Linked DNA regions of Homo sapiens. The protein of the gene in region 2 interacts with the protein of the main gene of each other region in a pairwise test. Each region holds a gene or a part of one and is shown on either strand. Other genes may lie near its edges.

Region 1 (3,240 bases), on a different chromosome or scaffold from region 2:
TCCAGCAGTCATGGACTTATTCCTCCCCGTTTTTACTGGACACCATGTTTCAGGCCAATCTGGTCACCTGTAGTCTGGTGGCATCTCTACCCCTACTGTCCAGTAGGTGGGATGTGGCTGGGATGGACAGTCCAGATTCTACTAACAGGCAACTCTGAACAAACACCCTCCCTGGAAACAATATTATATTTGATGGTTAGATTCTTTAGCAAACCTATTACATTATTCGATGTCAGCTAACCTATTGGTTTGATCATCTTTTCCAGCTGCTCTAGGGGCCTAACCACCATGGATAACCTGGTCTCTAAAGGAAAATACATTCCAGGTTGCAAACAACCAACTGACAACCTTTTGGAATATGATCTCCTTATACACTGGGGCTGCCTGTGCCTAAACACAGTAGATTTCCCTCCTGTGCGTATTTCATCAGCCCCACTTCCAATAAGTAACATTAAGTAAATTAGGGATTGACAGTATTCTGTGTTACAATAACTAGAGAACAGTTCTAAGTCCAAAGTGTGGAACTGGCACTGTTCACTAGTATAGAGATCCTACCTACCAAAGGAAAACGTGCTGCTCCCCATGCCTAGGGTATAGTATTCTTTAATCTACTAATTTAGCAGAAAAACTTCCATAGCACTTGACTGTGCTGTTTAAATTCGACCTAACATCTGTGATACATGTATTTTTGGCTACCAATTAACTATTCTGAATAAGAATAAGAGCAGTATACTTTACAGCTAATCTCACACAAAGGATGTAACTAATCAGTGATATTTGACGAATTATGGTAGGGTCTATTATATTCAGTCAACAACAAATTTAGAGAAACATACAAAGGTTTTTAAAAATATGGGTGGTGTCACACAGATCAACAACACTGTGCCTCCTCTAAATAAATCTATTTTAAATAAATATTCCTTGTATTGACACATGAAACCCAGAGGCCCAAAAATATCACTACACATCCCAGTTAATGATAAGGTTCTAAATTGACTTTGTGAGGGTAAAATGAATTGCTATAAAGTAACAAGGAAAATAGAAAGTAGCATAATATAGCTTGCAAACTAAATTATGTATTTTTAAAGGTACAGTCATCCCACTACCTGGCTATTTCATTACTTGGTGCTCTAGACAAGCTCCCAAGAACTGACTGGATCTTGGCTTGTTCTGTTTCTGTCATTGCTAATATAATATGGAAAACATTGCTGAAAAGAACAGAGATGGCCATGGATATGGCTAGGTTAGGTATTCATATCCAAATATCTGAACTCTAACCTAATGTGGATATGATTCTGTAGCATTATATTAAAAGCTATGATGATGCAATGCAGGAAATAACCTTTCATTCTCCCCCCTAGAGGATCACGACAGGTGCTTCAATGCCTGCCTTATCTATGGGACAGTAGTGTGATTCTCAGTGAGAGTGAAGGCCTTTGGGGATTTGAGTCAGGAAGGGAACATGGCTAAGTGCCTGGAAACTCTGCCAACAGTCTGCGGTTAGATTCTACTTGTCTCTGGATAAGAAATCTGTGCTCAGTGAACTTATGTGTTTGGAAAATTTAACCAGAATATAGAGGAAGCATAAGTCCTGTTTCAAGAGACCAGCTCACGGAGCATGCACATTTCTCACCATAGGCAAGCTATGGACAATTCAATCACATGGGATGGCCCCACTTAGGGGAATGCAGTTCTGGGTTTCCTTGCTATCCCTATTCTTTTTCAGCTACAAACTCTCTTCTTTTTCAGTCTCTTCAGTTTCCTTGTGCTCCCTTTAGGAGAGGGACAAGGGTAAGAGTACCAGGCAACTCTGTCCTCCTGCATGGACAGTTGAGACGGGCAGTAATGGCACAGTCCTTGGTTGGGGAAGAGAAGAGGAGACAGCACAGACACTGAGACCCCCTTGTCTTCCTCATCTGGGGGAAGGAAGGTACTCAGTGATTCTGTCAGAAGCTCTTCACAAAGACTATCTCTGAGGGTTTTTTTTTTTTTTTTTTCACAAGACTAGATGGAGAATTAATGAAGAAGAAATAGAAATGAGGCTTATTTAAGGTACAAAATTCTTGTATTTGTAATAACCTAGATTTATAGATATAAAACAAGTCTTTTAAAGACTTCCCTAAAATACTCAATATAAAACAGGAGTTACTTATCCTAGATCATCCTTAGTTAGGTACACATGATTCTCTGTGCAACTAGCTGGTGGACATGAATAAAAGCTGCTGGGCCTATAATGTACTAAAACATTTTTCTCCCTTCAGCAAGACAGGTAGGGTTGAAGGCTAAATGCATCAGAGGAGTATTTTCTTAGGCATTTTGGACAATCTTTTTGCAGTAGGTTCCATAGGTTTTCCCCAGCGAAAGTTGACTCAGACCAGAGTAACTCTGACACAAGTTGCCAAGAGGGAAAAAATACTTCATTTGCTAGATTACCCAAATGTGTAGCTTCATTTAATTACCAAGGTAAGAATCATCCCCAACCACTTTTCAGCTGAGAACACTTGCCAGAGAATGTCTCTGGATGGGAATAGATGTGGTACCAGCTAGGCCACTGGACTACCCGAGTTCAGCTGCCAGGAAATCAGAGCCACCTCAAATATTGGGCATGCTCTGATTCAGCAGTGGCAGTGCCCTATAACTTTCAGATGATTATCTCCATGTGCTATGTTAACCAAAATAGGCAAATTATTTACGAAACCATTTTTTTCTGTAAAGCAAAATAAATATATACAATTCAAGATTCTTTTCTCTTCTAAAAAGGTACAGATAGTGTGAGCTGAACATCAGTAGGAAAATTATTTCAGAATCTGGATGTATAATAAATAAACATTATTGTATATCATGTTTTCAAAGTTCTAAGAGACCGGGAAGCCACAAAACATAGAGTTAGATGGGTAAAAAATGATTGTGAAAAGTACTGGGAAATATGATTGTATGAAATTTGAAAAAAAAATTTCACAATCCCTAAATTGATCTCAAATCTTGGAGGGACATGAAGCATTATAGAACCATGTCTCTGTTTTGCAACCAAAAAGTTATTCCATTTTAAGTATCCTGTACATTTCTGTTTGCTTCTGTAAACTTGCAAAAGAAGTGGTGAGAGATTGCTGATGTGTGGGGACTTGACTGAGCAGACAACAGGGATGTTTCTTTTTCTCGGCGGGTTTCAGTGGCCTTCGTCACTACTCGATGAGCAGGCCCAGTCATAGATGACCAAGGGAATGCTGACCAAGGAGAACA
Region 2 (4,104 bases):
ATTGTTTCTGGAGTAATTTAGACTATAAATAAACATTCAATTATTAAAACCCTTACCTTTCTAAGAGAAGACAACATAAATCATTATGATGCAGCCCACAATCCAGCCAATCAGGAGAAGAATAGGAACCAGAAGGTGTGAAAATGTAGACCCCGCTTTAAAATAAACCGTAGAAAACAGATTATATTGGTCATTTTCATATTAAATTTTCTGTGTCAAGAGAATAAAAGGAATTTGGTAACATTAAGAAAAAAGCATACACTCTCTAGTTATACCCATACATAATTATTTTTTCTTTTCTACAGAGAATACGTGAGACTGTCATAAACCCTGGGTATTTTGAATCAAACCATGGGTCTTTTACTGTTATGTGACCTTTGGCAATTCTGGGCTTGAACTTTCCTACTGGTAAAATATGAATAATGAAACTTGTGCTCTCTACCTCCTGGAATAGTTTTGAACATCAAATGACATAACATATGTGCAAAGCTTTGTAAACTCTAACCACCGTGTGTGTTTAGTGTATACAGAACACATTCATGCATTTGTGCAATAACATATACAGCAGCTATTTATATAAAAAACAATCTAATACAACTCTGAGGCAATTCCCACTAAAGTAAATAATTATAACACAAGGAAAGGTATTGAGAACTGTCCTTGGCCTCAATAGCTGAATGTAATTTTAAATATCACAGGGAAAAGGAAAGTATCATACATTATGTAACCATTCTTGACTACAGAAAAGAATTTCTATTGTTTAAAAATTGTTCAGTATAACAACCAGCACTGAACCTGAATCAATGGGCAGTAATAATCCAACACACACATAAATGGCGTTTGTTATATATGATTCCTTCTGTGCCTCCTATTTGTACTCTTACCTGTAAAAAGCAATTTATACAAGTATCTTTTTTAAAGTATGCACTGCATGTAACTCTTGTTCTTTCAAGCAAACATACACAGGCATACACACAGAAATCCACACCTACATCACACAAAAAGATTTAGAAAGAGCGCAGAAAAACATTCTATGGAATTAATGTCCCTGTGTTAAGGACTCAGATATATTCTTAACTGCAAAGCATAATTAGATCTTATGCCATTAGTTAAAAGAGAGAATGCATATTCTTAGCAATTATACTCCTATTACAATTTCCATCACTTTAAAATGTGAAATTTTTAAAAATGCTATTAAAATAAAATCATCAGGAGATGAGACACATTTAAAATTAGAAGACACTTTTATAAAAGCAAACTTTCTGAAGTTGAAATAAATTTTAATACTTTAAATCAATTTTTCCAAGAATGCTAGAGTCTCTCTTAACTGACAAAATTCAACATGCTTTTCTTGTTTCTCCATCTCACTGTGACCTTGTATAAGGCATTAAGCACTAAATGGAAAACTCTTCTCTTTACTTGACATGTGGTATTGCTTAAGGATAAAGCAAACAACATGAGTTGCCCTTTACTCTCATTTGGACGAAAGCCTTTTTATGAATTAAGGTACCATTACAATGGAAGTACATAGCAGTAATTTTTTTGAACTGTCTAGGTATGTGGCTTTATATTTTTCCCAATTTCAAAGAATTTGAAAATTAATATTAACCCTTTAATTGTGCATTTATATTTTATACATGCATATTTTAATAAAATTTACATATCACAAAGCCCTAAAAGTATCTCATTATTTACTTTCCTTGTAAAATAGTACCAGTAGCACTAACTGTGCATTTTAACACCCAAAGTATACATTCCATTGTTTTTTTAACACTAATGTTTTCAACTTTACTAATACCTGTGGAATTGTTTGGAAGTAGAAATACGTAAGAGCACAACATACTTTGCATATGTCACTTACATTACTAGCACAAATAAGAACAAAACATCTCTTAAACATGAAGTGTAATTCTAAAATGCTTCTCTCTTGTCCAGTTCTGAGCATATCAAAGTAGTTACAGCTGGAAGTGTTCTTGAGGACACTGTGCTCTGGAAAAGACTGTCCAGGTTAAACACCTGGTGCCACCACTCTTTAGCGATCATGAACAAGTTACTAAACTGCTGTGTCTCCATTTTCTTATCTATAAAATGGGGATGATGATGATATGCATATTTCACAAGGTCATTGTCAAGATTCAAAGCAAAAATTCCTGTTTAATATTTAAAAACCATTTCTTAGATACAGTATATATTCAACTTTTTGACAAATTGGAATCAATTATTTTATATAACTATAAAATATAAATACAAAAAAATGTTTAAAAACCAGAAAAAAGTTAGATGTGGAACAAAAATTTTAGGTGTGGAATAGATGCCTGAGCCCAATATTCTCATTTTACTGTCAGAAAACAGACTCAGAGAGGTATAGGGACTTCTGCAAACTCACATAGCCATTTACTAGCAGGTCTGACACAGAACTTAACTGTCTTCAATTCTGGCTCAGAATTGAAATCAGGAGAACTGATTTCTAACTCACCTTTCAAAATAAGTATTAACAAAATTAAGCTCTTTTCCTTTGTTGATCATTTTAAAATTATTCATAACCTATAGACCTGATCCATAGATTACATAATTAATGCATTTTTGCAGCCACACTAACATATATGGTTAATGGTCATTTAGCATAGATATCACATTTTTTAGAGTGACTGGGAAACACCAAGAAACATAAATGAACCAAAGTCAAGAAGCCTTTTTTTTTTTTTTGCCAAGAGAATCCTATGCCTTAAATCTTACCTTTTTCAGCCATTATTCCTGTTGGTGGGTGGCTAGGTCAGGCCACGCTTACCTCTTTCTTTTGTTATCCAGCGTCTCTTTGAACTTTAAATAGAGAGAAATCTGAAGATTGCGGCAGCTGCCCGTCTCCTGGCTGCCAATTGTCTGCAGAGTGATGTAAGTCATGGGAAAGCAGAACTCCTCTGGCTCTTTATTCTATTATTATGGAGGAAACGAGGGGCTACATGACCTAAACAATTAGGTAAGCTGAATTATCCTAATGCAGATATTCGCAGGTTTTTAATTTGCACCATGCCTTTAGGTAACATGAAGAAAATGTTCTATAAAGAAGGTGTACAGAGGAAAAACAACATTCCACCTATACAAGTGCTATCAAGGAGAAGGGTGATATATTAGAAAGAAAGGATTTTGATGTTGGAGAGACTTGGGTTCAAATTCCAGCTCTTTCTGTAATGAAAGCCAAGTTGCTTAACCTGGGAATCAGCTTCTTTAGTTTTAAAATGAGGATAATAATACCTACTCATGGGAGTCGCATAAAGATGAAATGAAAGTCTGTATGAAATGTAGACAGTTCTTTATTACTTTACAGGTGGAAAACATAAAATGAAATGGTGCCCCTTTCTTTGAACTATTCTAAAACAAAAAGTGTTAATATAAATGTACTAGAAACTAAAACAATACAGACGTCGCCTAGAATTTTTAGGAAGCAGTCATAAGCTTGTTGTTTTTATTAGCAATGTATAAAAATAGGACATTTCATTTTTCAAAGTCCAAACTGGTTTATGTAACTGACCTAGACTATTCTCTATATTCTCATTGGAATAACTTTAAATTGGGGATCTGGCTGGAAAAGTTTTGCAGAGTGACCCTGTGAGCATCTTCCCAAAAAAAATTTGACATAAGATTAAGACCTGTAAAGGCAGGTCTGGCCTGATCAAATTTATCTCCACAGAGTTCCAAGAGTGATATTGCCTTGCAAATGACCATGTTCCATCACTGCTCAAAAATCCACCAATAGTTCTTCATCTCCTAGACAATAAAAATCCCAACTCTTTGTTTAGACACCTAAAAACCCTTATTTCTCTACTCTTCCATTTGCAGTGATAACTTCAGTGACACTGAACTCCTTGCTATTATATGAATTCAGAATCCTCCCACTCTCACAGGCAAGAAGAACATTTGACTTTCTACCTCAAATAATGTACCTATAGATTAGAGTGTGCAGCCAAGAATCTGGCACATTTATATCATTTATGTCAAGTTGTCATCTCTCTCCTCAGTCTCTCTCTCAATATATTATTTAATATTGAAAAAATGTCTGGCTATGTCAGGTAAGCAGAAAAACTACGTATTGTTTATGCAACAAAA
Region 3 (2,420 bases), on a different chromosome or scaffold from region 2:
TACCATATTTTCTTTCAAATCTGCCAACTGTGGTGAAAGGGTGTGGAAGAGAAGTGCTTCTGTGGAAGAGACAAGCATGGCTGTGGCTTCAGCCTCAGGGGATAACATTCTGACAAGTGGCTGGTCCTAGAGAGCTGACCCCTGAGGCATGCTGTGGCCCAGGGTCAGCCCTGATGGTGGTGCCCAGGGCCTGTCTGGGAATGCATAGAAGTGGCTCTTGGGATATTGATCTCAAAGTGTTAGGAGCATGTCCTGAACAACTGTCCTCAGTTATTCATTCTCATCCAGGAGTTGAAAGAATAATGGATAGTTGAGAGGATACCCAAGGGGATGGGCCTGCCAATCTGAAATTGAAAAGGGTTTACTCAACTATACATCTGGTGCTATTACCAAGTGTAAGAAAGGAATAAGGATTCTAGCACGTGCAACATAAGCGATACCTACTTATGCCTGTGATTGTTCATATACATGATGGCTATAAATGGCACATTATACAAAACTGAGCTGTGAGCATAATTTATTCATGTACTTGCATAGAAATTTGTTATACAGACATTAGGAAAAAGTATAAGTGCTCCCTGCAAATATTCAATTTTAGGAAAATAGTAACAAAAATAGCTTGAGAAAATTAATATCATTTAAATTCGACAATGTACAATGTTCCCATTTACAGATTTGTGTGAGCACAAGAAGCTCCTGCATGGTAGATCCCTGTTCTGAAGATCGACTCGGGTCCATTTTAGAGGCCTCTGGTTCTCTCAGCCACAGCCTAGATTCTTCACTGCTGATGATCTTTGGTTATGCTTGCTTTTTTTTCCCCACAATTCTTCTTTCACACGTTCCCTAACAAGAAAGGGTTCAGTTCAAACACTGAAAATTGAGCTTCTCCACAGCAATATCCATAAACCTATGACAGTTGCAAATTCATAGTTCCAAAGGCTTTGGTCACTGGGTTTTAAAATTGGAACGATATGTTTGCTTGCTTGGTTTCCTGAGAAAAGGAAGAAGTGAGCTTCTCCCTAAAATATTTGTAGGTTTACTTCCCTATTTCTGTTTATTCATTCAGCAAAATGTATATTGTGCACTGAGCACTGCAAACTAGAAGTGGAAAAAATCTTCAGGATTCCTACGTTTCACTTTCCAACCTCCAAAATACTACACGATACACACTGAAGTGGAAAGTAAATGAACATGACTTCCTTTTTAAATTAATTAATTAATTAATTAATTAATTTTTTTGAGATAGGGTCTTGCTCGGTCACACAGGCTGGAGTGCAGTGACATGATCATATAGCTCACTGCAGCCTCGAACTTCTGTGCACAAGCGATCTTTCCACCTCAGCCTCCTGAGTAGCTGCTGCAGATGTGTGCTGCTACACCTGGCTAATGTTACTATTTTTATTTTTTAAGAGATGGAGTCTTGCTATGTTGCCCAAGCTGGTCTTGAACTCCTGGGCTCAAGAGATCCTTTTACCTCCATCTCCCAAAGTGCTGGGATTACAGGTGTGAGCCAGTCCCTGAACGTGACTTCTGTTGCTGTCTTCAGTATGTTTGGTTACAGAGACTTTACGGAACTGATAACTTTAAAATTAAAGAGAGGAAAACAGGGGAATCCTTACCTGTTTTGTTTTGTTTTGTTTTGTTTTGTTTTTGTTTTTGTTTGTTTTTTTTTTTTTTTGAGAGACACAGTTTCACTCTTGTCGCCCAGGTTGGAGTGCAGTGGTGCAATCTTAGCTCACTGCAGCCTCCTCCTCCTGGGCTCAAGTCATTTTCCCACCTCAGCCTCCCAAGTAGCTGGAACTACAGGCACCCACCACCATGCCTGGCTAATTTTTGTATTTTTTGTAGATACAGGGTTTCACCATGCTGCCCAGGCTGGTCTTGAACTCCTGGGTTCAAGCAATCTGCCCGCCTGGGCTCCCCAAAGTGCTGGGATTACAGGCGTGAGCCACCGCACTCAGCCCTTTATTTCTTTTTGGTGGTTCAAATGCCATTGATTTCTGAGAGAGAATATTGTGAGTGTGCAAAAAATAATGAGCTTTTTTAAATTAAGGAATTCAACAACTTATAAAAATAACACCCGTAAGCAATCTGACCTTTGCCTTCAGTCTTTATAAGACATCCTCAAATGAATAAAAAATATGATTTTAAAGAGCCCTTTGGAGGTTGGTAACAATTCTATGCATTTGTGGCATTTACAAAATCAATTTAGGGGTTAAAGTAAAAATGCCTAAGCTGAGTATTTCATAAATACAGTAAGTAACTTTTCTTTAATATGTAAGAACAGGTTAAGCCAGGAACTTCTCCTATTTTATCTCATTTAAAACAGATCATTTTTCATAAGGAAAAATAATCTCTACCTAAAAAATCCTTTGCAATCTCTGAGAAAAGTTGCAATACAGAATAATTTTGATTGACAA
Region 4 (3,500 bases), on a different chromosome or scaffold from region 2:
AAATTATTAATAATCAGGGAAATAGAATTAACATCGCAAGATGGCACTACACGCCCACTCAAACAGCTAAAATTAAAAAGACTGACAATACAAAATGTTGGCAAGGATGTGGAGCAACTGTAACTTATTCATCACTGATGGAATGCAACATAGTACAAGAATTTGGAAAACAGTTTAGCAGTTTTTCAAAGTTGAAAATAACTTGTATATAATCCAGCAATTTCACTCCTAAAGATATGAAACCATATGTCCTCACAAAGACTTGAACCTGAATATTCACAGTGGCTTTAATCCTAACAGCTTCAAACAAAAAGCAATCAACGAATGAAGATGAAGGAAAAACAAATTATGGTGTATCCAAACTGAAATATTACCCAGCAATAAAACTGAATGAACAACTGATATATGCAACAACAGAAGAATCTCAAAAACATTACACTGAACAAAAGAAGACAGATAAGAGTATATACTCTATGATTCCATTTACATGAAACTCTAGGAAAGACAAATCTATTCTCTGGCTATAGAAAGGAGATCATGGTTGCCTAGAGTTGAGGGGTAGGGACTGAGTGAGAAAGAGGCACAAAGGAACCTTGCAGAGTAACAAAAATGGTCTCTATTTGGACTGTGGTGGTGGTTATATGGGTGTTCACTTTTGTCAAAACTCATCAAGTACACACTTAAAAATGTATACATTTTATGTGTGTAAAACCTCAATAATTAGTTGAATTACTAAAAAATACTGTTTGCAATTCAGACTATAATAATGAATAGAAATTTCAAAAGTATAAAGTTGCATTTTCCAACTCCTTTTCTAAATAACATTTAGAAAAACTCAAAAGTTTTCATAGAAACATATAAAACAAAGATTTAACAGGCAACCTTCTAAGTAAAGGTGAAATACCTGCTACAACAATCCTCTCCGGAACTTGCATTATCACACTAGCATTTGGAACTCCTTCTTGGAATCCTTGTTCCAGGTCAGCGTTTGGCGGTGCTACTTTTAACTTTTCTGGGACCCTCATTCGCTGACTAATGCCTTCAGTATATTCCATTTCGTACTGAATTCGACTAATTTCTGCCATCTCAGCAGCAGTGGGAGAAGGAAATGCTGCCCTGCTCACCCTGTGGGAGAAAAATTTAAAGACAGGGCTGACTGTTAAAATGTCAGTCTCCTCTACGCAGTGAAGTTAGAAGACAATACCTTATAGAAAGAGCGAAAGGAAACTTCTCATTTGCAAGTACTGAACACATACAAAGCAAAAATAAAAGATGAAAGAAAATGTCTTCCTCAACAAAATGCCTTCTTAATTATCAGCTGAAATTGTACCTTGAGGATATTGCTTAGGAGCAAATTTTTTAAATTATTATAGAATTACAACACAAATGTGTACACACACATACACACATACTCTCTGCGTAAACATGCATGCTGCTTGTAACTAAAAAAATGCCTGCAATAAAATTTAAACTTAAAATTTCCTCATCAATTTGAGGGAAAGCTGCTTGGACTTTAAAAATATAAAATTAAAAATTACTGTCATGCATGAAAAAATAAAACCTTTAAATGACAAATGCATCTGTTATTCAAAACCTTTAAATGACAGATGCATAACATTAACTCTGAATTTACTAAAAAAGAAGATGCAACTCCCTGAAAATCACATCATACAAACTAAAACTTCTCCTAATGACTGAGATGCAATGAATACCAAATTTAGAATTTGTAATAATAAATCCTCATGTTTGTATTCATTTTTGGAGGGACTGAAAGTTTTACACTATTAATCTGTATTTAATATCATATTTACATGTGTTTTTTTTTTTAATGCAGTAGAAAGAATGTTGCCGCCAATACAAAAGCTGATAAAAATGTAAAAGAGCATGGTTAGCCTACGGCAGTAAGCTTTAAAGCCATTGTCTCTCAAACCTATAATACCAGCTCAACTGAATAAAATTTCACTGACCTTCCTAGTGATGTGTCACTGCTTGTTCCTTTACTCATTTAAATACAGTAAATACAGGTCTATAATAGCTATTAAAATACTGCTACCCTGCAGTTCAGTTTACTTTACACAACAATTCCCCTACACATTTGAACTTTTTTTGGAGGTGTACATAACAACACGGACACTGCTTTTCCAGCTGTAAAAAAGAAAGAATAAAAATCAGTATTTCAACAATTCATTTCATAAGAAAACTATGAATAAAAGTAAATATCTACGTAAAATGACTTTTGGATTTGAACATGGCTTAGGGCTTGATTTGAGAAACCAATTGTTAAATCTATCCTAAGAAGAGTTTTTCTATACCTCAAAAATCATAAAGACAGTTGTAAGCACAGTCACTGTCTTATGATTTTGCAAACAGGATACAGAGAAGCTGTATCAAATGTATATACAAATGTGAAGTCAGATTCGAAGAAAACAATACTGCCATAAAACTCCTCTAATCATTATACTCCAAAGGGGAAAAATCCTTTTTTAAGACTAAGCCCAAATGAATAAATCATGAAGGGAATACAAAGGGTAAAAAGTAAATGTAACTGAGGCAGCCTACATATTTGACGTCTAATGGTTTCTTTAAATAAAAATAAACTTCAAAATTTAGGGTAAACTTCAAATGGAAATTACACTAAATTTTCAGCAAAGACACTATATATAAATTAAAGACATAAAAAGTTAAAGACAGTATACATGACTTTACCATGGCTAAGGTATTTCCTAAACTCCATGCTGGAGATATAGCCCCACCCTAAGCCCCCGCCTCACTGAGATGCCTAGGAGAGCTCTTAGAGGTTGCTCAGGACGCTCAGCCCCAGCAACTGGTTTGACTATGACTGCTAACTCACATCTTTTATTCTTTATCAAAAAATCTCTGGGGACATAGATCTTTAAGGATTTGGCATGCAGACGATTTAAAGACTAAGAAAGTAAGCCAAAAGGGACCATTTTTACTCACAAATGTGTAACAACTACTGCTTGCTATTTGGCACTATCTGCTTCTGTGCTTCATATTAAATCCTTTAACTTGCTTCAATGTGCATGTGCTGGATTGAGAGCCACTTTTGTCCCTGGGGAAGAAAAACAGGGGCTAATTGAGAAACTAGATGAAACCACTATTAGGGATTCATTACTGGAAATTCTCCAAATAGTAACAGTCACAAAGATGCACAACCTGACATCAAGAGACCAGTAAGAAAATAAAGAAAGAAAAAAATTAAGCTTACCACCAATCTTAGTTCCACAGATGGGGTCCTACAACTATTCATTAGTTAAGGCAATATAAAAGACTAGCTCTGTCATTGTTTCTGATTTGTATTTAGAAAAATGTGGCAGATGAAAAATACGTAAGTTTAAATGAATCTAATACTTACGTATATATATGCATATAGGTACACATATATGTTAAAGAAGAACAAATGAATTGGTTTTTTTTTTTTTTTTTTTTTTTTTGTCACCCGGGCTAGATTGCAATGGAGCTTCCTGAATAGCTGGGAC
Region 5 (3,500 bases), on a different chromosome or scaffold from region 2:
TACAGACCTATAAAGTTCCCAAGAGTAGAGACCACTGCATGCCCAGTGCCTAGCCCTGCACCTGGCACAGAGTGTGTACCTCAACAGTGCTTACTATTTGTTAGCTTATCAACATGCTACATTCCCTGGACTATGGTTAACTATGCATATGAATCTAGCAACATAGATCATTTCTCTTTAAGATAATGACTTTCCAAACAATAGTAGTAACCTCACATCCATCAAAAAAAGAGCAAAGCTCTTAGTTAGGGACATGTAGACTTGAGTTTTAATTTTAATTCTGCATCCTCAAACAAATAGTTTTACCTTTGTCAGCATCAGTTTTTTCATCTGCAAAATGGATGTTTAAATAATATACTGCACAGTAATTTAGAAAATTAAATGCAATAATACATATTAAGGGACCAAGTATAGGGCTTGATACATATGAGACGTTTGGTAATTAGCAGGTTCCCTTTCTTCTTTCCTCTTCAGAAGAGTGAGGTTTATAGTAAAAGGAGTGCACATTTGTCATTTTTGGGATGTGTGGGGAAGAAAAAGGAAAGGCACCCAAGCTTCTTCATTGACCATTTCAGCTGGAGCATGAAGGCCATGTTTAAGATGGATGCCACTATAGCAGTTTCCTCCTCATTAATCGCAACCACCAGTGACCTGATGCTTAAGGAAAAGATTCTCCAAGATACCCTCAGTGCCTAAGCCACCTTGGCTAAAAGAAACATTGTTCTAAGTGTTTGCTGGATTTTTTTCATCAAGGCATTTCTGTATAGGATTAACTTGGTCAACAAACGTTTGGAAACTTTTCCGAGACAATTGCCTTTGAAATGGAAGTGAAAAAGAAATAAAATCAGATTTGCAAATAAGTGAGGATGTTATTATGGACTTTATGAAATAGCACATGATTTTCCACAGAACAGTCCCTCTCACCTCCACAACCTAAGGTTATGGCTGCTCAAGAACATTTTTTTCACCCCAACTCTGACATGGGGTTGTGTTCTCTTTACATTACTGAGGGTTGGGGAGAGGAAGGGAAGTGGCAGATGCCTCTTGTCTCAATCCCATGGAGTATAACACATGATGAGGTTCTGATTCTGCTAAAGCGCATCACCCACTCAGTTGTACTGTTTGTCAGCTACACCCTGAAATACTTCCTCCAACTTCCCAACTTGCCCAGAGAATATCTGATCTGTGTAACTCAGAAGTTACACAGATGAGGTAATGTGGAAGTGCTCTAAAAATTCATGTGGGTAACATGCTGGGATTTTTTGTCTGTTTCTGATTGCAGTACAACATATACATAGTAAGGAGCATAAAGATTAAATAAATTAATAAATTTTTACTGTGTACATGCCCATGTAAACACCACCCAAATAAATACACAGAACTTTTCTATTACCCCAGCAGGCTCCCTCACGCCCCTTCCCAGTCAATATCGACTCCTCCCCAGATAATTACAGCACTGGCTTCTATCACTACAATTAGTTATACCTGTCCTTGAAATTCACATAAATTTGAATCATACAAGATGCGCTCTTCTGTTTCTGGTTTCTCTTGATAACTATAATGTCTGTGATAGTTATCCATTATGTTTTGTGTAGCAACATTTGTTAATTACTATTGTTGTGTAGTATCCTATTGTATGGATATACCACAATTTATATATTTTTCTTGGCAAACATTGGACTGCTTTTAATTTGAGGCCATTATAAATTGAGTTGCTATACTATGGTCAATGGATTTTTTAAAGAATGCCAAGAAAATTCAATGAGAAAAAAAATCTTTTCAAAGAAGGGTGTTGGGGAAACTGGATATCCACATGCAAAAGAATCAAATCGGACCCCTACCTCATATCATATACAAAATTAACTCACAATAGACTAAATCCCCAAATGTAAGAGTTAAAACTATAAAACTCTTATAAAAGTTTTCTTACAAGAAAACATAATAATTCTGTAATTAATGTTTTTCTTATAAGAAAATATAGGTGTAAATTTTTGTGACACTGGATTAGGAAGTAGTTGCTTAGATATAACAACAAAAGCACAAGCAACAAGAGAGAAAAACAGAACAATGACATGTCAACAAAATTTAAAAATTAAAAATGTTTGTGCTTCAAAGGACACCATCAAGAAAGTGAAAAGACAATCCACATAATAGGACACAAAAATTTTCATATCACATATCTGATAAGAGACTTGTATCTAAATATATAGAAAACTCTTGCAACTCAAAAAAAGATAGATAATTTAAAAATGAGTAGAGAATTTGAATAGATATCACTCTAAGACTTACAAATGGCCCATAAACACATGAAAAGATGGTCGGTGTTATCAGCAACAAAGGGAATGAAAATGAAAACCACAATAAAACAGCACTTTATATCCACTACCAAAAAAAAAAAAAAAAAAAAAAAATAGCCGGCCAGGCACGGTGGCTCACGCCTGTAATCCCAGCACTTTGGGAGGCCGAGGCAGGTGGATCACCTGAGGTCAAGAGTTCAAGACTAGCCTGGCCAATATGGTGAAACCCTGAATCTACTAAAAATACAAAAATTAGCCGGGGATGGTGGCAGGCACCTGTAATCCCAGCTACTTGGGAGGCTGAGGCAGGAGAATTGCTTGAACCCGGGAGGCAGAGGTTGCAGTGAGCCGAGATCGTGCCATTGCACTCCAGCCTGGGGGAGAAGGATGTGGAGAAACTGGAACCCTTGTGTATTGCTGGCGAGAATACAAAATGATGCAGCCCCTTTGGAAATTAATTTTGCAGTTCCTCAAAATGTTAAACATCATGTTACAACATGACCCAGCAATTTCACTCCTAAGTGTAAATACCCAAAAGAATTGAAAACATGTGTTCATACAAAAACCTGTAAACAAATGTTCCTAGCAGCATTATTTATAATAGCCAAAAAGTGGGGAAAATCCACATGTTCATCAACTGATAAATGGTAAACAAAATGTGGTTTATCCATACAATGAAAATTATTCAGTCAGAGAAAAGAATGATGTGCTTAACATGTGCAATAACATGAATGAACGTTGAAAACATTATGCTAAATAAAAGAAGCTAGACACAAAAGGACAAATGTTGTATGATTCTATTTACATGAAATGTCCAGAATAGGCAATCAATCATAAACTAGCTTTAGTGGATATCAGGGCCTGGGGAGAAAGGGAAATGGGAAGTGACTGCTGAATAGGTATGTTTCTTTCTAGGGTCATGAAAATGCCCTGGAATTAGACAGTGGTGACGGTCGTGTGACTTTGTGAATATGCTAAAACTAGTGAATTATACACTTTAAAAAGGTAAATCTTATAGTATGTGAATTATATCTCATTTTAAAAGATGGTTCTTTAGCTTTATTTAATACTTTGAATTTATTATTCCAATAGGATATTGCTTAAGTTAGCCCCCCAAAAAATGTTAAAGCTGCTATGAATATTTTTACACAGGCCTCCAAATATAATTTGATTCATCCAACTTCTCACCCAAACTTATCCAAG
Region 6 (3,500 bases), on a different chromosome or scaffold from region 2:
AGAGAGGGGATGGGACTTACCCAAGGACACACAACAGTTCAGCAGCAGAACTGGGACTGGAACCCAGCCCTCCTGACTCCCTTCTAGGGCCCTTTACTTTAACCCAGGAGACCTGGCCACATTCGGGACCAAGACTGTTTTGGGCCCCAGGTTTCTCAACCTCTCAGTCTTTCAAGCGGCTTCATAGAGTTGAGCTCCTCCCCAGCCTGGACAGGTGGTGCAGCCTCCCCTGCCAATGTTTTATTCTCCCTTCCTCTGGATTGAGCCCTCGCTGCCATGGCCACCCCTCCTGGGAGCTCTTGCTCCTGAGAAAGAAAACAGGCCGTTTGTTTGGAAGAAACAAGCCACCTGTTTGGTTTCCCAATACCAGGCCACACAGCCCTGTCCCTCCCAGACAGCCCCAAGATGCTGACCAGAGATAGCCCTCTGAGGGTCTCTGCTGAGCTCCCCTGACCCTCGACTCCTCCCCTCAGCTCCCGTCTCAAGACTGCTGGTTGGTCCTCACCTTCTGTCTGTGGTGTTTACTTGGGCGGAGCAACCTAAAGTCTCCACATTCTCTCTTGCCCTGGATTTATCAGACTTAGCAGCCCTTAAACCTGAATGCGTAGCTTCAGATCTTAGAATATCGGGGCCAGAGGGATCTTAGCCATCAGAAAATCCACTCTGCTTATTTGACAACTGGGGAGACCAAGACCCAGGGAAGAGGAGATTTGCCTGAGATCACAGCCAGGACCAGAACCCGAGGTTCCAGAGTTTGTCTTGAATGATTTTGAGGATGATTCTTGAAAAACAAAACAGGGCACCCTCCCCCTCCAAGATCCCCTTTCTGTCTGCACTTCACACTACCAGGTGTTTTTGTGGCATCCGTGGTGACATGGTCAGGAGGAGTAAGGGCCAAGGGTCCTGAAAGATGAGGTGTGCACATTGAGGAGTGTGTCTGCGCATTTCCAGGTCCTGTCTGTTCAAACTGGCATTAACACCACGGCATGAGCTAGTGAGTGCATTTATCTGGCACTCCCTTAGCCAGACTTGATAATGTGTCTTTGGATGGCAGGCTTTTAAAGTTGTCTTCGTCCACAGATTACAAAAGAAGTAGGTGCTCCTTGTAAAAACGAGCAGATGACATCGTGAAGGCTGGCGACCACTGTTAATATGGTGGCGTTTTATTCAGGTTTTTGTTTGCTGAGCTGTTTCATGTCCTGGTTTGTTGTTGTTGCTTTTGAAAAAATAGAGACAAGGTCTCTGTGTGTTGCCCAGGTTAGTCTTGAACTCCTGGGCTCAAGTGATCCTCCCACCTCAGCCTCCCAAAGTGCTGGGATTCCAGGCAAGAGCCACTATGCCCAGCCCGTATCCTGGTTTTTCAACTCGTCATTACAGTGCCTGTTATCTTCATGAGATAATGTGAGTGACTTCACGCAGGATCTAACCTGTAGGTCTCACGTGCTTCCACCCCTTGATGGCTAGCAGGTATTCCCTTGGCCAAAACCCTGTGACGCTGTGCAAAGTGCAAAGACGTTTCCAATTCACCACTGTGGGAGTCCAGAGGGCCGTTTTTCTGCATCACCATGGGGTTTGGGAAAGCAATTCTCTCTGAACTCTTAGAAATGGAAGCCACGGGCCATCTGGGTGTGATGCGTGTGACCCAAATTCATACAGAGGGAGGGAGACAGCTTTGTTTCTTCTGACTTTTATGTGTTTATTTTTGCTGTGTTTGTTTTAACCCATCCAAGTGCCGCCACCCCACCATCACTGCCCCTTGCCCCAAATCTCCCTGGGATTAGGCATGGGGTTAGGCAAGTTGCAGGTCTCTAGAAAAATCGGTATTTGGCATGCTCATCTCCAAACCCTGGCTCTTGCAGAGTAGGCGTTTCAATAGCAAAGATGTGCAGAGAATTTGTTTCCTAATCGGTGATTCAGGTAGGACACCCCATTCTGGGAACAGGATGGGGCGGGGTCTCTGTCTCTCTCTACCAGGATCACAGCTTTGTTAATGCCATAAATCATCAGTACTGGAAGTACTCGTATCTTGGGGATTTTCTAAGCTCATGTTCACAGAATGGACAGCCACTTACTAGTGGATTTGAGCATCGTTGAGTGGTTTTCCGCTGGATTTTTAAAAGTGAAGTAGAAGACAGTGGACTAGAAAATAGCATGCATTTCCTGTCACGAGAAATATTCCTTAGTAAAACTTTCAGTTATCTGTTTGTGGATGTGCACTGAGTCACTAGGTAAAAACGTCTCTCCTCCTGCATGGTAAGAACCTTGCGCAATGTAGCTCCGGTTATACTGTGATCCTGGGAAACCTTGGATGGGTCCTAGAAGCAACTCAGGGGTTTGCAGGGACAGAGCTGAGTGGTGGAGGCAGGGCCGACAGGAAGGAAGCTCGGCTTATGCTAAGGATACAAAACATCCACTTTTAAAACTCTGTGACTTTAAAAATAAAACAGAAAGTTGGAAGCCATTGTTCGTCTAGCCTCCTCAATTCCTAGAAGAAACTGAGGCCACAAAACAGAGGCTGGGGCCTTTGCTGCAGGGGAGGTAGCACTCAGGCCTCACATTGAGGAGAATCTGCAGATGTAGACCCTTGACCCCTCCACAAATGAGCGACTCAAAACACACGTTCACGGTGCAGCCTGTGACCCCCATAGGCCTCACTGTTGCGTGCACTAGGAATTCATGTTTATCCTAAAGCCTGTCGCTCTCGTGCCAACAACCCAATTTATATTGCTGAGATGCACAAAGCATTAATTTTTTCAATGCCACATTTCAAACAAAGAAGAGTTAATAACCCTGTTCTGGCATTTCTTTTTTTGTTTTGTTTTGTTTTTTGAGACAGAGTCTCGCTCTGTTGCCAGGCTGGACTGCAGTGGTGCAATCTTGGCTCACAGCAACCTCCACCTCCCAGGTTCAAGCGATTCTCCTACCTCAGCCTCCCTAGTAGCTGGGACTACAGGCATGCGCCACCACACCCAGCTAATTTTTGTATTTTTAGTAGCGATGGGATTTCACCATGTTGGCCAGGATGGTCTCGATCTCTTGACCTCGTGATCCGCCTGCCTCGGCCTAGGCATGAACCACCACACCTAGCCTTCTTCTTTTTTTAATGTCCCCAGAGCTTTACCAATGGAAGCTTCCCAGGCCCATCCCCTGGCCTGAGAGGCCTTTGAGATGATAAGCCCAGGGTCACCAAATCCTGGCAGAACCTGGCAGAATGAGAACTCACCACAGGGAGCAAGTTCTTTTTTTTAAGATCGTGGACTCACATGATGTGCAGTTCTGGATGTCTCCAGGAGGTTTTGCTATTTCCTCAACAGGTAAAATTAGGTGGCTCTAAATCTTGGGCAATTTTATGTCTTTTCCATGTTTTTCTCCTCACATGTGGTCTAGGGAGGGGTGTAGAGAAGCAGGTGGAATTTACTTGCCTTACCTTATCCTACCTTTTCCTGGAACCCACAGGTTGGGCCTGTGCTGGTTAGGGTGTGGGGCATGATTTGTTGATA
Region 7 (3,500 bases), on a different chromosome or scaffold from region 2:
ATGAGGTCGTTGTAGGTCTCTTCCTTCTTGGAAAGAAAGCTGAAGATGTTGACGTCCTTGGAGGCTGTGCTCCCCTTCACCTGCAGGGCCTTCCGGGAGTGTGGGGAGCTCTCAAAGGACTCCTTCCGTCGCCGCCGCCGCTTCTTAATGGCTTTGTGGACTTCCACAAACATGCTCACCTTCCAGTTGACAAAAAGGGACAGCCAGGCCAGCCCCAAGTAGATCCAGAGCTCCACGAAGTAGCGGTACAGGGCGTGGTAGTTGGCGCTGGGGTTCACACCTGAGCGGACAGGCAGTCCAGAGGTCAGGAAGAGTTAGCAGGGCCCGGGAAATGTGCAATGGCCAATGCTGTGTGATCTGAGCAGGGGTCAGGCCAGAGCACAGGACGGGGGTGCAGTGGGATAGAAAGGGGCCTGTTCTAGACCCTGGACTATCCCATCTTCCTCAAGGGCTTGGGCCTGCCATCATTCATGACCCCATCCCAGTCTCCAGCCTGTCTCTGAGTCTCGGTTTCCTCAACTAGAAACGTCAAGACAGGCCAGGCATGGTGGCTCACGTCTGCAATCCCAGCACTTTGGGAGGTCAAGGCAGGTGGATCACTTGAGGTCAGGAGTTCGAAACCAGTCTGACCAACATGGTAAAACCCCAGCTCCACTAACAATACAAAAATTAGCCAGGTATGGTGGCGGGCCAGCTACTCAGGAGGCTGAAGCAGGAGAACTGCTTGAACCCGGGAGGCAGAGGTTGCAGTGAGCCAAGATCACACCACTGCCACTCTAGCCTGGGCAGCAGACAGAGACTCCGTCTCAAAAAAAAAAAAAAAAAAAAAAAAAGTCAAGACAGTGACTCTTTGAAGGAAGCTAAAGGGGCTTTGGGGGACTGGCAATGTAACCGACACACAGGTCAAGAAACAGTTCATGAGTATTTGCCTTTCTGTTAATTCTTCTACCATCCCCAGCTGTTCTGCGTATATGATACAGTTCACTTAAAAACGGAATGGATGGATATTACACAAGGGAGCCCCCAGCACCCTCCAAGCTGGGGCTAGACTCACACTGGTGGATTACAAACAAGGCTGGTGGTTAGGTTGAGATGACCCAGGAAGCACCCACCGTGGCAAGAAACGCTGAACCATTTTTATTTTCATTGAAGGTCTGGTCTGCCTCCCTGACTTCCTCAGATCAGCTCTCCCTTGACCTGGAGGAGGGCTCTGTCTGCTCCACATCCCCCTCCTGCTGCAGGGAGCCTTCTTGGCTTACCCCCTACAGCTCTGAAGGTTCCCCCTACACTCCAGGATTATTTGAAATGTCGTTGACGACTACATGTACAGGCATGTTGACCTGTATTCCATTTGCCCCCTCGACTAGATACAAGAGCAACTTACAGAAGGGACCTGGAGGAAGGGGGCTACCTCTCTCATCAGACTAGAGGTTCCTCCAGGTGCTGTAGCCCGGTCAGTTCTCCTCCCACGACCGGGCTCAGATAGCAGGTGCCCTGAGTGGTCCTGTTAATCCTGCTCAAGGCTCTCAATCACAAGCAGAGTTTCATGATGACAGTAATGAGGGCACACACTGATATAGCCAGGCCCTACCCTTAACACTCATGAATAGTAATTATTATTTTTACTAATTTTACAGAAGAGAAAGCTGAGGCAGGGTTTGGTGTCTTGCTGGTGCTGAGAAAGTATGGCTAAGTGTACATCTGTATTTCCCTAATACCAGAGGCACCTCCTTAGCCTGCTCTGGGCCTCAAGGGCTGGACAATGGCAGGGTTGTGCCTTGTCCACATGTACTGCCCAGGACAGCAGGCCCGGACTTGGCAGGGTCAGGGGAGTGTTTGTGCCTCTCTTTCCTGTTCCTCCCCCAACTCAGCCAACTGCTCCCAGATGCCACATACATCAAGCACAAGGCTAGTGGCCTCCCACTGCCCTCTGGGCAAAAGGGAGGGGGTACAGAACAGAGGCCTCTGGAGCAGAAGTTGAGGTCACTGGGGTGGTGGGTCAACAGGGTCAAACAGGGTGTCAAGAAGATTAAGAACCAAGATGCTGTGCAGGCCACAAACACAAGTACATGTGTGGCTGGGGCCAGCTGGTAACAGGCCTTCAGACAAAGGGGCCAAAGAACCTCATCACTTCCCTGGATTAAGCAGGGGAGGAGTAGGAGGGAGTGTCAGGGCTGGGGGCAGGGCAGCTGGGGAGAAGGCCTCCCTTGTCTTTAAGCTGCTACAGCAGGAACAAAGCCCCAGGCCTCTGAGCCATGCCTTCAGGACACCTCCCTCCACTCTTGTGAAAGATGAAAGGCTGCTGAGGGCGTGGAGTGGGTGCTGGTGGGCTCAGGGGCTCCCTGGGTAGCAGGTACCAACCGTGCAGGCAGAAGGCCCTACTTGCAAGTCCCCCATGAAGCCAAGCTCAGGAGTCATGGGAGAACTGAGGGAGAGGAGATCAGAGACTGAGCAGAGAGGAAAGGAGGAGGAAAAAGGCCATGTCTGAGAAAGGGAACCAGAGAGAAAAGAGTTTTTTGTCATTACTCTGGGTCTTAGTTTCCTCTTGCAAATGGCAGAGTGGGTTGAGAATCCCACTGGGTAAGAGAAGTGCCCAGAACATGGAACCCTACCTAGGGCACCCCCAACATAGGTCTGTTGCACTGAAACCAAAGAAGCAGAAAAAGAGGTGGGAGGCAGAGGCAGGGACTCACCGGCCACAAAGTCACCGAAGCCGATGGTGGAGATGGTGATGAAGGAGTAGTAGAGGCCCTCGATGTAGTTCCACCCCTCAGTCACCATGAATACGAAGGGTGGGATCACCAGGTGGACTAGGACGCCCCACACGATGAAGATGACTGTGCACGTGATCTGCGCCTTCCGCTGATGGGGAGCAGGAGGCCAAGTCAGAGAATAGTGGAGACTTGGAAACCCAGCAAAGGCACCCAGAGGGCCAGGGAGGCAGCTAGAGGAGAAGCTAGCTGGGTACCCAGCCTGACCCGGGAGGGCAAGGAGCTCTGAAACTATCCTCTTGCCATCTGTCCTTACACCCTTGGTCCAATTCCTAGAGGCCTCCTGTCCTCCCCTCACCTGTCATGGTTCCCCCATCTCTGCCCAACACCCAGGGTAGGGGACATACCAGACTCACACCTCTCTTGGTAAGGAACTGCCCTAGTCTCTTGGCACGTCCCCCGAAGAACTTGCCCAGGGCACTGATCCACGTCAGGCAGAGCGGCACCCCGAAGAGACCATAGAAAACACAGAAGAGGCGACCGGCGGGGGTCTTGGGAGCCACATTGCCATATCCTGAGGAAGGAGAGAGTGAGGCCAAGAACAGGAGGGGTGGTCAAACCAGTGGGCCTTGCTTCCAACACACACACAGCCCGTTCTCTAAGATAAATTGATATTGATCTATTGTCAGTACTTAAGTAATGATATTTCCCTTGATCATACTCTGATCATGATCATTGATAAAGCAATTATGATGACATGAGCTGTATCTCCTCCATCATACAAGGAGC

The links.
Region 1: the proteins of STRIT1 (region 2) and SLC38A1 interact in binary tests that used the Homo sapiens proteins (3 or more experiments, as listed by UniProt).
Region 3: the proteins of STRIT1 (region 2) and SLC14A1 interact in binary tests that used the Homo sapiens proteins (3 or more experiments, as listed by UniProt).
Region 4: the proteins of STRIT1 (region 2) and MFF interact in binary tests that used the Homo sapiens proteins (3 or more experiments, as listed by UniProt).
Region 5: the proteins of STRIT1 (region 2) and EDA2R interact in binary tests that used the Homo sapiens proteins (3 or more experiments, as listed by UniProt).
Region 6: the proteins of STRIT1 (region 2) and TMEM51 interact in binary tests that used the Homo sapiens proteins (3 or more experiments, as listed by UniProt).
Region 7: the proteins of STRIT1 (region 2) and KCNK5 interact in binary tests that used the Homo sapiens proteins (3 or more experiments, as listed by UniProt).

The regions. Positions count from the first base shown.
Region 1 is NC_000012.12:46,185,804-46,189,043, forward strand, and holds part of SLC38A1 (sodium-coupled neutral amino acid symporter 1), read right to left. Parts: coding exon 3,167-3,240; 3' UTR 1-3,166. UniProt on the Homo sapiens protein: Symporter that cotransports short-chain neutral amino acids and sodium ions from the extraccellular to the intracellular side of the cell membrane. The transport is elctrogenic, pH dependent and driven by the Na(+) electrochemical gradient.
Region 2 is NC_000003.12:155,290,884-155,294,987, forward strand, and holds the start of STRIT1 (sarcoplasmic/endoplasmic reticulum calcium ATPase regulator DWORF), read right to left. Parts: upstream 2,801-4,104; 5' UTR 2,750-2,800; coding exon 2,737-2,749; intron 156-2,736; coding exon 61-155; 3' UTR 57-60; intron 1-56.
Region 3 is NC_000018.10:45,750,601-45,753,020, reverse strand, and holds the end of SLC14A1 (urea transporter 1), read right to left. Parts: 3' UTR 844-2,420; coding exon of another isoform or gene 799-843; 3' UTR 501-798; downstream 1-500. UniProt on the Homo sapiens protein: Mediates the transport of urea driven by a concentration gradient across the cell membrane of erythrocytes.
Region 4 is NC_000002.12:227,328,251-227,331,750, reverse strand, and holds part of MFF (mitochondrial fission factor), read right to left. Parts: intron 3,074-3,500; 5' UTR 2,962-3,073; intron 2,146-2,961; exon of another isoform or gene 2,006-2,145; coding exon of another isoform or gene 1,968-2,005; intron 1,126-1,967; coding exon of another isoform or gene 1,086-1,125; coding exon 905-1,085; intron 1-904. UniProt on the Homo sapiens protein: Plays a role in mitochondrial and peroxisomal fission. Promotes the recruitment and association of the fission mediator dynamin-related protein 1 (DNM1L) to the mitochondrial surface.
Region 5 is NC_000023.11:66,618,579-66,622,078, forward strand, and holds part of EDA2R (tumor necrosis factor receptor superfamily member 27), read right to left. Parts: intron 1-3,500. UniProt on the Homo sapiens protein: Receptor for EDA isoform A2, but not for EDA isoform A1. Mediates the activation of the NF-kappa-B and JNK pathways. Activation seems to be mediated by binding to TRAF3 and TRAF6.
Region 6 is NC_000001.11:15,156,747-15,160,246, forward strand, and holds part of TMEM51 (transmembrane protein 51), read left to right. Parts: intron 1-3,500.
Region 7 is NC_000006.12:39,191,476-39,194,975, forward strand, and holds part of KCNK5 (potassium channel subfamily K member 5), read right to left. Parts: intron 3,286-3,500; coding exon 3,119-3,285; intron 2,863-3,118; coding exon 2,694-2,862; intron 281-2,693; coding exon 1-280. UniProt on the Homo sapiens protein: K(+) channel that conducts voltage-dependent outward rectifying currents upon membrane depolarization. Voltage sensing is coupled to K(+) electrochemical gradient in an 'ion flux gating' mode where outward but not inward ion flow opens the gate.